2 separate regions of the Homo sapiens genome follow, and region 1 is linked to region 2. The links come from fine-mapping of genetic effects on gene expression. Tissue or cell type: whole blood. Region 2 holds a variant in brackets; the other region holds the start of a gene. All regions are shown on one strand. Distances are from middle to middle. Region 1 holds the start of THBS1 (thrombospondin 1). Region 2 overlaps LOC105370777 (a long non-coding RNA gene).

The links. PIP is the estimated chance that this variant, and not a neighbour inherited with it, causes the effect.
Region 1: it holds the start of THBS1, and the variant in region 2 is fine-mapped to the expression of THBS1 in whole blood (INTERVAL, PIP 0.98).

Annotation. Positions count from the first base shown.
Region 1 is chr15:39,577,898-39,586,308 of GRCh38, reverse strand. It overlaps THBS1 (thrombospondin 1), which reads right to left and starts at 5,230. Exons shown (of 22, transcript NM_003246.4): 1 at 5,081-5,230; 2 at 4,385-4,480; 3 at 3,557-4,116; 4 at 2,617-2,692; 5 at 2,122-2,321; 6 at 1,887-2,009; 7 at 746-839. The coding sequence starts at 4,451. It overlaps LOC124903470, which reads right to left and starts at 6,502. Exons shown (of 1, transcript XM_047433405.1): 1 at 5,315-6,502. The coding sequence starts at 5,991. The coding sequence ends at 5,557. THBS1-IT1 (THBS1 intronic transcript 1) reads right to left here and starts at 183. Exons shown (of 1, transcript NR_186398.1): 1 at 1-183. RefSeq lists silencers at 5,690-5,739, 5,750-5,979 and an enhancer at 5,402-6,139.
Region 2 is chr15:39,308,638-39,317,048 of GRCh38, reverse strand. The region is part of intron 1 of LOC105370777 (a long non-coding RNA gene); the gene reads left to right. Among named protein-coding and RNA genes, the nearest start is that of LINC02915, 62 kb to the right of the region's middle. The variant G/A (reference allele first, on the strand shown) is at 3,522.

The DNA.
Region 1 (8,411 bases), 270 kb before region 2:
CAATATCGCTAATATGATCCCTGGATGGAATTGGTTATTCTGAGCTGTGACAAGGGTGTGTTTGTGTGTGTGTGCATGTGTGTTTCTGTGTGTGTGAAGGGCAAGTGCTGTTTTCCTGTTTTCTTCCTTATCTTAGTTGTAATGAATCACTTTTATAACTTGTACCTGCTACACTAAGTATTGTCTCAGCAAAGTCATTCATTTTACTGGTAACAAAAGCCAGGGATAACGTGCCATGGAACGATATCGTGCCTTATTTCTTTTGGTGCTCTAGAGCTCAGATTGCTGCTATTCTCTTAGGCCCTCTTATCCCTACAGATGAAAGGGGCAAAACTTCCAGGCCCGATCAGGCCAATGCTTACACAGTAAGCCTGTCAATATCTCTGGTGAGCAGATTTTTCTTAACTCTGTGCCACTAAGGTCAAATTCTAAAAGCAGTCAACTTAGAGCTGTTGCTGCCACGTCTTCATCTCTTTTCCTCAAAGCAAAAAATCAGAATTAATGAGCTATACCAAGATCTTCACTGCCATTACTGCAATCCAGATGGGTAATTACGATGTACTCATAATGGAGTTTTGGCTCTGTACAGCAGATAAGCTGTCAGTTAACCAGCTGCTGCAGCAAGAAACTGAATGGAAGCATGATGGAGATGGGGGTGGGGTTCCAGTGTTGTGCTCGGCTGTCTAGGATGTATGTAGAACTGACCTAGTCACTGAAGAATAGCTATGCCATTTGAGAAACTTACGCCAACAGCGAGGACAGCATTCTCCATCAGGAACTGTGGCATTGGAGCAGGGCATGATGGGGCAGGACACCTTTTTGCAGATGGTAACTGAGTTCTGCAGGGCAAGAGAGTGAGAGGGGAACAGGCTGCTGAGCATGTTGCATACAGAAGTCTACATCCTGTAACATTTCCTTTACAAGCCAAAACATGGTCAGGGCTGTCAATGCTCTAGTGGAATGATTTTCATAGATCTGTCTCTGTCATATTTGCAGCCACCACTATCGTAGAGACAGTTCTAGTGCTAGTTTACGTGTCACTCCATTCCTTGGAAAGTTCTTTTTAATTGCTACTTAGTCAAGGGTGGAAGTTACAGTACAAAGAATTTATAGCAGAGGAACCAACAAACATCATGGGTCAAATCTATGTCTGAAATCAAACTCAGAAAATTCAGCCAGGACTTTTACATTTTTATATTATGTGTTTGGGGGGAGGAAGGAAGATCTATAAGCACTTTTTCCTCATCTATAGATCTGTGATCTGTCTTTATATTGGAAAAGAAAGGGAATTTAATGAAGTTGGTTCCCACAGCCAGTCATCTGTGATTTGTATTTAAGCAAATTCAAATACTTTGCTATTAATAGATAAGCCAGGTGAACCTCCAAACTCACTGGCCACTGGCATGCGGGGATGCTAGAGTGAATCACACACCTGGCAGTGCCATCTGAGCAAAGCAGACAGTAACATCCTAACAGTGTCAGACTAAGTGATTTGAAAAACAATTGCTACTGTACTAAAAGAACCTATGCCAAAGCTGAATATAAATCAGGGTTGGGAAAAAAAAATGAATGTTCCAACCAGGTTTTATTTACCTGACATTCAACACTTAGTCTTTGAACTAAGGTAGGTAAATTATTCAGATGTCTTAGTAGATTCATTCTCTTAGATACTTAGCCTGGGGTATAATTAATACTTTGATAAACCATCTGAGAGTTTAAAGAAGAACTTATAGATGCCATAATTGCATCTTAAAGAAAAAAAAAACACTTTGTTATCAGGCCATGGAACATAAAAAGAATCTCTGTGGCGATTAGGGTATTTCCCCAAAGATGTAGGTTCAAACAAAAGCCGTCGATTCTTATTCTGGCTGGTGAAGGTCCCTTACCTGACAGTGACACTCAGTGCAGCTATCAACAGTCCATTCCTCGTTATTTCTGTACTGAACTCCGTTGTGATAGCATAGGGGAGGCCGCCTCAGCTCATTGGCCAACTCTTTGTTCTCTTCAGTCTAAATGGGAGAGAATATCATTAGTGTCCCCCCGCATTTTCAGTCATTTGGGACCATCTGCGATAAACCTTCCAGGGTTCATGCTAACGGGCTGGGTGCAGAGGCCACTGACCACTTTGCGGATGCTGTCCTGCAGCGTGGTCACAATGGTGCGCAGGCCCCTGAGTTCCAGGACCATGCTGGACAGCTCATCACAGGAGATGCCGCAGATGGCTTGCAAGTCCTTTGTCTTGTGGCCAATGTAGTTAGTGCGGATGGCAGGGCTGGAACCATTCACCACGTTGTTGTCAAGGGTGAGGAGGACACTGGTAGCTGGCAAGAAACAAAATGAAAACTTCAAATAGATACTCTTACCAACCAGCCTCTTGAGTTCTTAGTGGTAGAAGACGTTTCATTTGGTGTGAAGGATGCAGGTAGAGGGGTTGCGTGTATGCGCACGTGTGTATACGTGTGTGTGTATAATACCCCTTGGAGTCACTTCTGTATGCCTCTTGATGATCTCACTGGGGGTAATTTATGTATAACCACTATTGCTAAATTCCTCAGTTTGTTTTTGGTGGAATTCCCCCTGATTCCCTATGTGCCCTAAAAATAGAGGGGTACTCACAGCTGGAGCAGCCTTTGTTCCTGAGGATGTCTTCTGGTGTGGTTCCAAAGACAAACCTCACATTCTGCAGCACCCCCTGTGGGCAGAGGACACACATTACTTGTAGAATGCAGAGCGGGGTGGGGATGGGGTTGGGGGAGACTGTCTGTATGCTAGGAAAAGCATACAATAGATGTTCTAAAAGCTTCAAAGAGCTGTCTTAAGATCACTATGTCAAAATAACACAGCAACATTAATCGCCAAACAACTTCAAAATCTTAATTGTGACTTCTGCCAAGTCTTGAGTATTTTACAAAGAATTCAGTTATCAGCCTACTTGGGTACACAGGAAATGGAATCTGATCCTAAGCCTAGAGGATATAATGACACTTTCCAGTGTCAAAGAGTTAAATGTGGGAGTTCAAAGCCACCGTTGCAAAGATCTAGAAGTTAAGGCACAGATGAAGCTGTAACAGCAACAACTAACTGCTATTTTAACCTTTTATGTGAGACCAGCTGCATCCCCATGAGGAATCCAATAGCAAAGTGGTACTGATTCTGCCCATAGAAAGTATCCATTTCAAACAAGATTAAAATTGGGGGAATGCATTTGAAATAAGCTCTTTTCTTAAGAGCCTAAGGAGTATCTAAGGCTTGAACAGGCTGACTGCTAAAGGAAAACCATTTCTTGTTTCCTTGAGTAGTTTTCAAAGTGTGCTTCCCAGACCACCGGCATCAGCATCACCTGGTACTTGTTAGAGTTGCAGTTTTACAGAATCCCAGACTCTGGGGCTGGGGTGCAGCAGGGTGAGCTTTCACAAGCCCTCCAGGTGATGCTCATGCTGCCTAAAATCTGAGAACTGCTGCGTTAGTTTACAGACAGGATTTCCTGTAGCCCTCCTGGCAGGTCACCTGTCTAGCAGATGATCCCACGGAGCAGGGCTCAGAGAAGAAGCCTCACCTGGAAATTGTCATTGACGCCCCCCTTTGCGATGCGGAGTCTGGCGATGCTGGCCAGGTCTCTGGTGAAGACGCTTTGGATGGGGACGTCCAACTCAGCATTCTCCATCTTTTCACAGTCGATGTACAGCTGGGCCCTGTCTTCCTGCACAAACAGGGTGATGCTCTTCCACTGGCCGGTTGCCAGGAGAGCTTCTTCCACAGACACCACGTGCTGCTTTCCTTGGACGGTCAGGCTGAGGTCCAGGGTGCCCGCCTTGCCATTGGACACCACGCTGAAGACCTGGCCAGAGTGGTCTTTCCGCTCCAGGGCCAGCAGCGTGCCCCGGGTCTTCTTCATCTGCCTCAGGGATGCCAGAAGGAGGAAACCCTTTTCTGCCCGCACAGCATCCACCAGGTCTTGGAACTTGTCATCAGGCACAGGGGGGATCAGGTTGGCATCCTCGATGCGGAAAGCTGGGCTGGAAGGGTCGGGGCCCTTCACCAGTCGGCGCCCAGACCCCTTGCGGGCGGCCCCGGTGAGTTCAAAGATGTCAAACACGCTGTTGTCTCCGCCAGACTCTGTTAGACAGGAGAGAACACAAAGTGAGCTTTCTAGGCTGGGACCAGCAGTAGGGGGCTGAGTCCTTAGGGGTGGAGACAAAGGGTTGGGGTGAAAACTCCTGGCAACCACTGAAAGAGGTGAATAAATACCAGGATCAGAGTGAAGCTGCGTCCTGATGTCCAGTCAGGCTCAAGAGGGAGAGGACAGCACGTGAGGGGGCACACCTGGGATAGCCAGCACCTCTTCCTTGTCCCTCCTTCCCCTAAAGGTGCCACACAAACTCACCTGGAATGCGGTTGGTGCCACACACATGCATCAGGAACAGGACGCCTAGTCCCCAGGCCAGCCCCATGGTGGAGCTGTTGGTGCCCAGCAGGGATCCTGTAGCAGGAAGCACAAGAGCCGAGGGTCAGAGATCAGCTAGGCAGGGAGGGACGGTGCGCAGAAACGGGGCTGGGCATGGGGACAGGGCCGGGACCATCCCTCTTTGACCCCGCGTTTGCTGAAATGAAGGACAACAGGATTACTTTCCAGAGAGCATGAGAGAGAGAGAGAGAGAGAGAGAGAGAGGTGGAGGAAAGAGATGCTGGTTTTAAAGTGTGGGGGGCGCAAGACCAACAATTTGGGGGCTTTTGGGAAGTCGAAGGTGAGCAAGATCAGGAACTGTAGTTTGGGGTTGCAGGGAGGGCAGGGGAAGTACAGACTCTTCCCTGGAGTGCTGATACAAAGGCTTAAGGAGGACTTCAGAGAGTAAGGAAATCTTGGGGTGTCCTGATGAGTTGGTTTGTGAACCTCAAGGCTGGAGAGGATGGCTCTGGAGCCTTGCCCTGAAGAGTCCTCCAGCGGCTGAGAGGAGCGGGCTGGGGTAGGCGAGCGGGGAGAGTGTAGGTTCCGGGGTCCACCAGAGGGACTGAAGCCTCAGCGCTCCAGGTGGATGTCCCGGGCAGCTTTGGTCCTCGGCGGCCGCCGGGGGCGACTTACCTGTGTGTACCGGAGCGCGGCGGCCGGGAGCGGTGGCGAGGGCGGCGAGGGCTGGAGGGGCGCGGGGAATGCCTGTGCGTCCGGAGTAGAGGTTGCTCCTGGAGAGCGACAGGAGCCCTGAACTCGCAGGCCAGCTCGGGCGCAGCGGCTGGCAAGGCGGAGGAGCCGCGCGCTTTTAAAGGGGCGCTCGCATTCCTGGGGATTCCTCCGGCCAATGGGCGGCGGCCGGGCAGGAAGCGGGAGGTGGGGGCCAGTCTGGGCTCCTCTCTCCGCCCCCCGCTGCCTGGCGCGCAACTTTCCAGCTAGAAAGTGAAGGGGGCGGGGGTCGGGGCTTGGGAGCACTAGAACTTCTCAGAAAAGTCGGTGCCCGCCCACGCAGCCTTGGCGCGCACGGGCTCGGCGCTCGTACTCTTGCGCCACGCGGGCTCGGGGTGATCAGCAAGCATCCCGAAAAGGGACGGGGCTGGGGAGACCACCTAGGAGGGCCCGCGGGGTGGCGCAGGGGCTTTCGGGCGAGCTGATCTCCCGGAATGCCTGGTTGATGGCGAGAGGTGGATACTAGAGACTGGGCCCGTTTTGTAAAAAGAAAAATGGGCCGACGGGGCGCAGGGGACACCAAGAGAGCCATTCGTTAAAGTACCTGCCCCTCGGGCCCTCGCTGACTCTCCTCCACCGTCCCCGTGGGGTGAGGACACGCGTCCCCCGAGCGCCTGTCCTGAGCTGGCCCCACGCCCGCCCCGGAGGGAGGTGAGCGCGGCGTCGGCGGGGCCGGCAGGTTGGTGCGCCGCGTTCGCCTTCGCTGCCTTCGGGCCCTTTCCTGCCGCGGCTGCCAGGGGGCCCACAGAGACGCCTCTCCCGCTGCCGCGGCGCTCCCTCGGCCGGCCGCTTGGGGGCGGTGTGCGTATTCTCATCAAGGGGCCCGGGGAGGACAGCTGCTTTCTACTCGAATTTTAAGGAAACTTACTCGTATCCAGTTTCCACAAGCCAAATTGAAATTGTGTCTTGAAAAACAGTTTTTGTGCCCACTCGTGCTTCTTAACGTGACTCCTGTTTGGAGAATTTGCAGAACCATCTGGCTCCAGAGTCTTCAGCTATTTACAGAGCAGACCCATAGAGTAATAAATTACTCTCTGCCTATTATTGTATTTCCCTTTTTCCTCCCTAAACGTTCTTTTCATTTTTCGGCTCCTGAACCCGAGGTGTGGGTTACATTTCTGTGGGTGCACACATTGCCATGAGTGCCGCTGCCTAGTGCTTCTGTCATTGAAGTCTGGTCTCCAAGCCACTGTCCCAAGCCAGCATGACTCTAGCTTCCTGGAATTCCATTCATCTCTTCGGGATGGGACGTCAGCCGCCTCGCTCCCTCTGCTGTGATCCAGCGCTATCGGGCTCGCTCCGAGGCCAGGGCATAGGTAGAAGCTTGACCAAATAAGGATCTCAGCACGGGCAGGGGGAAACCCCTGGGGTTCACCTCCCATCTTAGCACTTAAACCTGGCAGGACTCCCGACTGCTGCAAACAGCCAAGTGTTTACATTCATCAAACAGCAGTTTCGCTTTTCTTGCGTGGGAGTGTTGTATGACAAGATGGTGTGTGTGTGTGTGTGTGTGTGTGTGTATTACGGAAAGAGTGTTTTCTAGTTACTCAATATGTATATAAAATGCCTCTAAAAGATGACCGGTATGTTCCTAAGGCACATGTTTGTTGGATTTCAGATGTTGGGAGGCAGAAAGAAAAGTTTCTACTGGTTGATGAATAAAATCAGATTCTTGTCCCGCAAATCATAGGTAATGATTCATCCAAGCAGATCTGAAGATTCTGGAATCGGCACCCATCCATCTCCCTCCCCTTCCTTCTCCTTCTACAGCATTCATCTTGCTCTTCGAAAAGTAATTGGGTTTTTTTTTTCTTCTTTCCACTTGCTCCATGATACTGGACAGTCAGAAATAGTTCTTGGAGGGATGGGCCGCTCATGGCTCTGGGCTCCTCTGGCCCACTGGATCATTGTGTACAAATCAGATGGGGGCTTGAGGGCTGCAAGAGGCCCACAAAAGCAGAATGCATCTTGTATGAAAAGATTATCTCCCCTAGGCTTAGCTGTGCAGACAGAGTAGAAACCAGCACTCACTGCCCCTTCAGGATTCATGCTGCCATGGCTGAGGGATTGTAGGAATGCCTCTGCAGATTTCTTGGAACTTGGCTTCTTTCAACAAAACAAGGACAACAGTTTCCAAACTTCATCATGCTTTACCAATAAGAAGGTGACCTATACGGTGGCAGGAAAGAGCTTTCTTATTAGAGAAAGCTGACAGGTATAGGAGCTGCTTATCTCAAACACAAAGCCCTTCCTCTTATCATGATACTTCAGTTGTTCTGGGTGGAAAGGAAAGGTCATAGAAGAGGGAGTGTCTGCGCCCCTTAACAGGAATTCACCCACATTCTTGCCAGCCAACATGTGCTGCAAATATTCCCCAAACCTCATATACCTCTGTGCAGCTTTGAGAGAAGCAGGGATGGGAAAAGGGAAAAGAAAACCTATCCCCTTTAATGTGAGGGCAATAGTCCATTTTGAGTGTGTCTCTACAACCTGGAAGCACTGTGATTTTAAGGCAATCAATTAACATGGGCCGAAGTGATGGACCTTTCAGGGAGCTGGTCCAGTTCTCTTTTTTGCCAAGTTGTCATCCTTGAGGATTAGTTACTGAAAATTGTAAGGCATATGGCATTTCACCGTAGGATTTCCTTTTTCTAAGTTTCTCTAATTGGAGGTGGGATTGACCTAAATACATTGGCAGTAAGTGTGAGGAAAGGGCTGTCAGTTACAGCTAGTTTTAAAATTGCGTGTAATTAAGGAGAGCAACATAATTGAGAAAAAATATTTTGTTTATTTAGCATAGAACAGCAAGGTGGGCTGTGATTTTGTGTAGGAATTTTTTAAGTGTTGCAAATTTTCAGTAGTGGAACATTTCTTACAAGTGTGAAGCAATGAAAAATCATTGTATTCTAGAATAGTCTAAAATCATAGCATCTTCAAATTGAAGACATCATAAATTCATTTCTCTCTGAATATGTTCCCTAGATCATAATTCTAAGTTGCTTTACTTTAACTGCATCAGAGGTCAGAGCCAGGAGGAAGTTACCAACAGATTTTTCTTGTCCTTCAATCAAACACCAATTCAAGCTCTCCCTTCTCCATGAGGTGTTTTCCATCTGTTTTATGCTGTGTGTTTTAAAGCACACATTATCTCTATCATAAAACTTATCACCTAACACTCTTTATTATTTAGTTTTTAAAAATTAGCTTTTATTTTTTCACATGTAAAGACCAGAAT
Region 2 (8,411 bases):
ATCATAAAAGGTTGAGGCAAGATTTGTGGATAGGAAGCCTGGTTATGAGAAATCAGGTTTTAAAAGGTCAGATAATTGCTCAGAGAGGAATGAAGGAGTGACCAAATCAATGGCACTTAGGAAAGTGGCCTAAGAAAGGGTCCTTTTCCACAGGGAGATGGCTACCTCTCCTCCTGTTTATTACACCATGTGGCTGATGAGTCTTTATTTCCATTTGGAAACAGAAGTCAAATTCAGAGTCACAGGTGAGATAATAGTAAAACAGTGCATTATATTTATACTTGCCTTTTATTGTCGAAGATATTGCATATTTATTATACCTTTTTGAGCTAGTTTAATGAAGTGGAAAGAGCTAAATGATCTGATAAAATCAGCTAGTGCATCTCTCACTGGAGCATCTTGAGGATCGAATGAAATGATGTTACAGTTCTTACAGTTTTTATCAAGCTGAAAACTTTGCAAGGGTCCCTTAAATTCACTGAGCTTTGATAGCTTGGGGTTAGGTAGCAACTGGACAATCTCTACCTTTCTCACTCTAATGTTTGTTATTCTTATAAACTTTGGTTGGTAAGTAGAGTTGGATTTTTTAAAAAAATTATTTCACTAAAGAGGAACTGGAGCAAAGAAATAAAGTGAGTGGCCTCACCAACTGAGGAGGAAAATCTGAACAGTCCAATACTTTCCCCACAGCTGTGCTTCCCTCATAGGTGTTAGAAGCTGATGGGGCCAGCTGTGGCCCATGAGAAAGGCCCTGTGGCCCCAGACATGGACAATCATTCACTTCATACAAATTACTTTAGAGTAGAGAACAGTAAATTGAGACCCCAGATTCACCATACGGGAGCTCTGATCTCAAAGAGAAGTTACCAAAGCTGCTTCCCTGGGTGAAATGGAAATTCCTGGAGGTCTAAGCTGCTGGTATGTATGAAGAGCTGTATGGCACATGGGCAAGAAGGAAGAATGGCTTCCCAGAGAAGGCAAGACTTACCAGTCATGCAGGAAATGGTGCTCAGAGAAATTTAAGCTTTGTATTTTGATTCAATTTTATTTTCCTTTAAAACAAGTGATTCTTATTTCAAACTATAGATTGCTTTGATAATTTGATGAAGATGAATAGGGTCATTTTAGAAAAATGCACTTCGAACCATCAACCATCATGTATTTTTGCAAATAATTTCAGTGGATAAGAAAATCCCCTAAAGACCATATGTTGGCCTCTTAAGTCTTGGTCCAGAAGTTTTATCAACCACAATAATAGTGGGACTCCATTCTCAAAAATTCTGATTCATCAGATATTAGAGAGTTAGTCCCAGGATTCCAAATTTTTAATAAGCACTCAAGAGAATTCTGGTTTAAGTGAGCTGGACCAAACACTGAGAAGCATTGTCATAGGGATCTCTGGCTCCTAGTTAAAAGGCATTGCCTCAGACTGCCTTAGAGCTCCAATGTTTCTGTATATATTTTCAAAATTAATTATTATCTTTCTCAATTTCACTCTATAAAGAAAACTCAAGTTCCCCATCAAATGAATTAGCCATTTTGGAGCAAAAATCAAAAGAAAGGAAAGAAGATTTTTGTTTTGACTGAGCCAGTTTGGCTGGCTTCCTATCCTGGCATCATCAGTTGAGTATTAAATTTCCAAGTCACTGGGTGACAGTATGCCTGGCTTCATCCCAGTATGGGCATTCATCAGCTGCATTGTACAGTAAGTACAGTAAGAACTGTCTTGTAAGAACGGGCTAGACTTAGTGAGACAATCCTGGTTTGTTCTGAAGAGCATAATCAAATGAGTGATTGCAAATGGAAATTGAGATCAGAGCCAGAAAAGGGGTCTTGAGCAGCAGATTTGTGATCAAGGCAATGCTGCCCAAAGAGGGCAAATTGAGCTCTCAGGAGGACTAACATTCAGGAAAACGTTAGGTAATGGGGCTTGAGTTGGATGAAGGCAAGCAGTTCAGGATGGAGGCTGTGATAAAGATGTTAGTCTTATCAAATACTGGCCAGTTTAAACACATTAGACTTGACTGGACAAAAAATGTTCTACATGGACATTCACTGATGAACCCTTATTACATAGAAGTCCAAGAAATAAAAGTTCATGGATGGTAAAATATGTCCATCTTATTTCTGATGATCATTTTTTGACAGTGAATTTACATAGAAATGATGAATAGCTCTATGTAGTTTTCATTGGTAATATTCTTTATTAGGGTATTATCTAGTTCAGTGGTTGGAAAACTTTACATAGACAGGGTAGAAAATTTTAGACTTTGTGACCTATCATACTGTCTCCATTATAAATTCATTTTTAATAATCCTTTAATAATGTAAAAATTCTTAGCTTTCAGGAAGTACAAAAACAAGGCAAGAACTGGATTTGGCCCTAAAGCTATGGTTTGCTGACCCTCTTATAGATTATCTCAACAGTAGAGTTATTTTCTATTTACATAGTATTTGGTGTTCTCTGATAGGAAATATAGGTCAGTGGAAGAACAGCTATATTTATTTAAGTTTCTCATGGAGGATATATCCCCTTCCTTATTTACTGAAAGGAGGGCTTAATACCATAAGCATGAGAAGTGGTGTTTTCTAAGCCTGAGTCCTCCTGTAGCCATCTAATATTAAAACCTGTAAGGAAAGAGTTGGATTTCAACTTGGTTTCTTTTGATCTATAAATTCAGGTATGATGGTGGTCTGGCCCTTTTGGGCTCTAAATTTAGCAATTAGCTTACTTTTGTTTATGTTTAACTACAATAAGCACCTTCTGGATTATCTGGATCTGGATTATCGGGATCATTATTTTATTGCCTGTGTACTAAAATGAGATTTAAGTCCAAGTAGACATTTGAACATAAGATTATTTGGGTTCCAGTAGGACTGCTTTAACTGTTTCCACATAATGAGACTAAAACAAACATAAACTTCATAATGGCCAAATGATGCCAACAGACAGTTTGGAAGGACTTTATCAGAGAAAACATTGATTGGATATTGAGTCATTGCATAACACATGGTCTATATAGTACAAAACTAGATAGATCTTGTAACATAGCTGTCAGCTCCTTATCCTCCCTGGAGCAGAAGAGGTTCAATTTTAGTCAAACAGTATGTTGGTCACATTTGATTAATGCTTTTAATTTGAATTTCAGTGATGGCACATTTAATTTGTAAATATGCATAAAGCTTGTTCAGTTATGAATATATGTGTGTGTATGCAGTTTAAGTTACCTCTAGGAGTGTTAGGAGATGGTCATAGTGGTCAACGTATAAATAAGGGCCAAGAACAAGGTGGTTGCAGTTAAGGTGGTTAAAGCAGGTCTGTGGTGATCCACAGGAGGCCATTCAGTGTCGTAGAGAGACGCCCCTTCCTAAGGCAGGTGCAGCCTGGAGCCAGGGCTCAAGGCCTTGCCAGCAGTGATTGGCTGGGTTTTAGCCTTGTTCACCCCCTCAGCTGAGCACTGTTGTTCAGGGGTATGTTCCTGTCCTAAGTAAGAGGGGGTGTGATTTAAGAGATAATATAG[G/A]GTAATAATCTTTGGGACTTAGTCAATTAAGTCTGGAGATGAAGAATTATTTCCTAACTTCCTCATTGACTGTTTTAAAACAATCCTCACTAAGCCACGTGGCTTTGGTGATGATTGTTTTAAAACAATATCTGATTTACTGAATCTTTCAGAAAAATTGAAATAACTGATATGAATTTTTCACAAGCTTTGATACAGTTAAGAAAAACAAAATGTAAGAAAAGAATATTGAAAGGGCTAAGCAACAGCAGCAATAGACTTGGGCAGGAGGTATGCGCACTACAAACTCGAGACCTGTGGACTTAGGCACTTCCTCTTTGCCATAGGTGTGCTTATTGGGGGTGTCATGGGCATGAGTCCACAGTGCCCTCTACTGCCTCCCAGTAGGTCTGTTCTAACATGCAACAGCTTGGTGGTCTCTTGTCCCCAGAATGAAGCAACTTTTTAAAAAAATTTATAATTATTTTATTTTATACTTTAAGTTCTGGGGTGCATGTGCAGAACATGCAGGTTTGTTACATAGGTATACACGAGCCATGGAGGTTTGCTGCACCCATCAACCCATCATCTACATTAGGTATTTCTCCTAATGCTGTCCCTCCGCTAGCCCCTCACCCTGGTGTGTGATGTTCCCCTCCCTGTGTCCATATGTTCTCATTGTTCAACTCCTACTTATGAGTGAGAACATGCAGTTTCTGGTTTTCTGTTCTGTTAGTTTGCTGAGGATGATGGTTCCAGCTTCATCCATGTCCCTGCAAAGGACATGAACTCATCCTTTTTTTATGGCTGCTTAGTATTCCATGATATATATGTGCCATATTTTCTTTATCCAGTCTATCATCGATGGGCATTTGGGTTGGTTCCAAGTCTTTGCTATTGTGAATAGTGCCGCAGTAAACATACATGTGCATGTGTCTTTATAGTAGAATGATTTGTAATCCTTTGGGTATATATCCAGTAATGGGATTGCTGAGTCAAATAGTATTTCTGGTTCTAGATCCTTGAAGAATCGCCACACTGTCTTCCACAATGGTTAAACTAATTTACACTCCCACCAACAGTGTAAAAGCATTCCTATTTCTCCATATCCTCTTGGCTAAAATCAAGTGTAGTATCTGTTCTTATCAGTTTAATGGAGCAACTTTTAAAGGGAGTTTCCTTCTAGGTGGACCCGTCACTATGGTGCAGAGAAGCAGGGAATGACTGGGTGGAACTGCAGGGCTGCTTCAGTGGGCAGGGAGAGTGCATCAGGGGAACCATGCAGAATGCTGGGCTACTCATCTGCCTCTCCATTTCACAGGAGAAACAGAGAGCTGTTGGTTTGATTGACTTAAATGGATTTTTATTTATTTAATTTATAGTAAGTGCCGCGTATTGCTAGGCCTTGCAAAGTCAAGGGTATCAGGAATATAAGAGGACTGAAAGCAATATTCCTCGTGCTTCCAGAGCAGATGCCTAACCGGGGAGGCAGAGCTCAAGTGTGGTACACTGAGAACGCCTAGGATGCAAACACAGGTGGATTTGTTTATTACTAAAGCGGCACAGGGAAACTTCTCAGAGTGAGAACATATTTTGTCAGTAGGAGGAGCGCCACATAAGATGAAATCAGACTGCACACATGCATGAGGGTTTTCTGTTTAACTTGGGGGTGAAGATGAACTTTCAAAGGGGCCTTAGAGGCAGGTATATTACATCCATATTTTTGAGTATGAAGAAGAAGGGGCAAGCAATACTTAGTGGAAACAAGACAAAATTCAGAGATAAGAGTGCAAGTGGAGTTCAAACATAGTAAGAAGAGAGGTTAATGGTATCTATCTCCCAGCAGGCAGAACACCACCACACTCCTGGGAAATGTTTCCCCAGGCACCGGAGTATGGAGGTGTGCTCTCCCCATTAGTAGGGGGTTCTTAGTATTGAGCCAGGCTTTTGCTTGCTTGAGGCCTGATTACTGTAATACTTGGTCTAATTCTTTTCGACTTGGGCCACAGGCTTAGGCATTGCTGAGCAGCTGCTGTGTGTTTTTGTCCTCTAGCAATGGTGAGCACTTTAGCCTTGATATACTGGAGCCTAAAAACATATGGCAACAGCTCTCAATCAATGTCCTGGAGCTCTCAATCAAGTTGATGTTTTGTTTGGTTGTGTTAAAAATGGATTTGGCCGGCACTATGGTTCACACCTGTAATCCCAGCACTTTGGGAGGCCGAGGTGGGTGGGTCATGAGGTCAGGAGATCGAGCCCAGCCTGGCCAACATGGTAAAACCCCGTCTCTACTCAAAATACAAAAATTAGCTGGGTGTGGTGGCGGGCGCCTGTAATCCCAGCTACTTGGGAGGTTGAGGCAGGAGAATCATTTGAACCTGGGAGGTGGAGGTGGTTGTAGTGAGCCGAGATTGTGACATTGCACTCCGGCCTGGGCAACAGGGCGAGACTCCATCTCAAAACAAAATAAATAAAAAAGGATTTAAGGATAGTTTTCATGGCATCCTTTCCCCATAATTGCAGATATTAAATGCAGCCTAAGAACAAGTGTTAAAACATCCTCAGAGACAGTTTAGTAGTGAAACACCCAAGTCTTTCTGACATTAATAGGCTTTAGTGGGATTAGCTTAGTAATAGTTACATAATGTGTGATTCGTGGCAATGAAAATGCTAAAAGGGCCAATTATTGCATCATAATGGACACACCTTTAACATAAAGATACATTTGTCATTTTGTGGTGTTCATCTATATTTAAATGAAGGATACGAATCATCATTGTAATGGCAACTTTAGCTGTCAGGGATCCTGTTGCAGCTCTGCCTCAGCCAGTCTGTGCACAGAGCATGGAGCACCAGGGCCATGGAGCATGTGGGCTATGGAATCGGGTTGCCTATTTTCATCTTGACTCCATCACTTGCTGGGCAACCTTGAGTAAGTGGCTTAACCATTTTCTGAGCCTCAATTTCTTCACCTATAAAGTGGGGGTCATACTAGTGTGTCCCTGTAATTATGGGGATTAATGGAGATAACATGTGAATCACACATAGCAATGTTAGGCATAAAGTAAGTGCCTAAGGAGTATCGGTTTCTTTAGTGTTGGATTTGTTGCCATCTTGAGCTCCGTGTATCCAGAATTTAAAATGGAGATCATTCTTCCCAGCAATGTTTTAAAACTTGTAGAGCTGAGTTCTTCTAGGAAGACAGAGTAAAAGGACACCATTTCAGAAGAATTATTGTATCTCAGGAACCTAGGGCCTAAGCTGGTCATGGCCTCTATTTCTGCTGTCTAACACACATTCCAGTTGTGTCCAAGTTTTCTTCCTCCACCTCCAGGAACATCCACATATTAGGAGGCCTAAATTGAATTGTCATCATTATTTTGCCAAGGCTACCACTCCAACTCAAAATTCATTAGTACCAAGGGCCTTAGTCTGAAAATCTGACATGAATCTTTTTGGTAAAAGAGAATCTTTGAGATGTTTTCTTTGATGGCCTCAGGCTGGGGCAGTAACATGTGTCTGAGTCCTCCTCAGTTCGAGGTGGGCCAAATATAAGATACTTGTGGATGTCGGCCAGACTGAAGTGAGGATTATTCTGGGTAATCCTGATCATGGGGTCACATCCCATTCCTTTCACCGTTGGAGTTTAGCAGACATCTACATTTGGGTAGAGTTTTATTCTCACTACATAGTGGACAGCTCTTCTGTCTGCCCACAGGCAGACTTTGCTGGTTCTGAATGCTTGAAAGGTTTGACTTTGCAGTCTGCTTCTGCTGAGGATTTCCTACTCCTGAGCCCTAGAACACTCAGATGTTAAGATGCCAGAAAGATGAGGAAACAATAAAGAAAACTGAGAAGCAACCAGTCAAAGGAGGAAGATAAAACCCTAGGAGAGTGTAGGATCCAGGAGGCCAAGGGAAAAAAGCGTTTTGAGAATCAGAGAGGGGTCAAGGACATCAAATGCTGCTAATGGATAAAGTAAGAATGAAGACTAAACATCATTCGTTGTTGGCAATATTGATTATATTAGTTTGGTGCATTAGTTTTATTCTCCCTTTAATTATAAAATCTCCATGGCATTAATTATTATGCTTTTTTTTTTTTTTTTTTTTGCAAACCAAGAAGCTAAGATTCAAGATATATAAACTGTCCAGATTCACAAAGATGGGGAAAAGTCGCAGAATTGAGGTCTGCACTCAGGTTTTCTGACCATGATTTTCCTTATCTCTGATACCACATATTTATACTTTGGTTTAACTTTAAATCATAGATTTCCTTTTCCTAGGAAATAACATTTTAAGACTCATTATACATTGTGTATATAAGATTTTGTTCAACTTTTAAACTTATAAGTATCAGGAATCTGATGGGGATAGTATTTTTAGAAAACTCCTACCCTGGCTGGGAATCAAGCTAGGCCTGTGCATGACCACCTTCAACATTTGGCCCTTCTAAGAATCTCTGGATATTTTGTGGAAAGTAGAATGGGAAGAGAAAAACATGAAAAGTAGAGACCTGATACGTCCTCAAGCGTAGTCCTCTCCCAGATCATGTTTAGCTAGCTTCCCCTGAAGAGACTTCTGAGCAAGTCAACATGTATCGGCCAGGGTCATTCAGCATTCTGGGCAATGGCACAGGCATTAATTCTGGGACAGATTAACTCAAAGATTATTGAAGAAACAAGACCTAGGTATAGAATCAGATTCTGTTGTTTCTATTTTGCTGTAAGAAAGCACTTGTATGTAGACTATGTCAGGATTACCTCAATTCTATCCACTGCTCACTTAGTTTAAGATTATTTTAAGTATCTTTAAAGAGTAGTGTACATGTAAAGAGTTTAGGTGAGAATCTGTGTACCTCATTAAAGTACTGGAATTTGGACACTAGTATCAAGTGGTTCTTTTGTAGCTC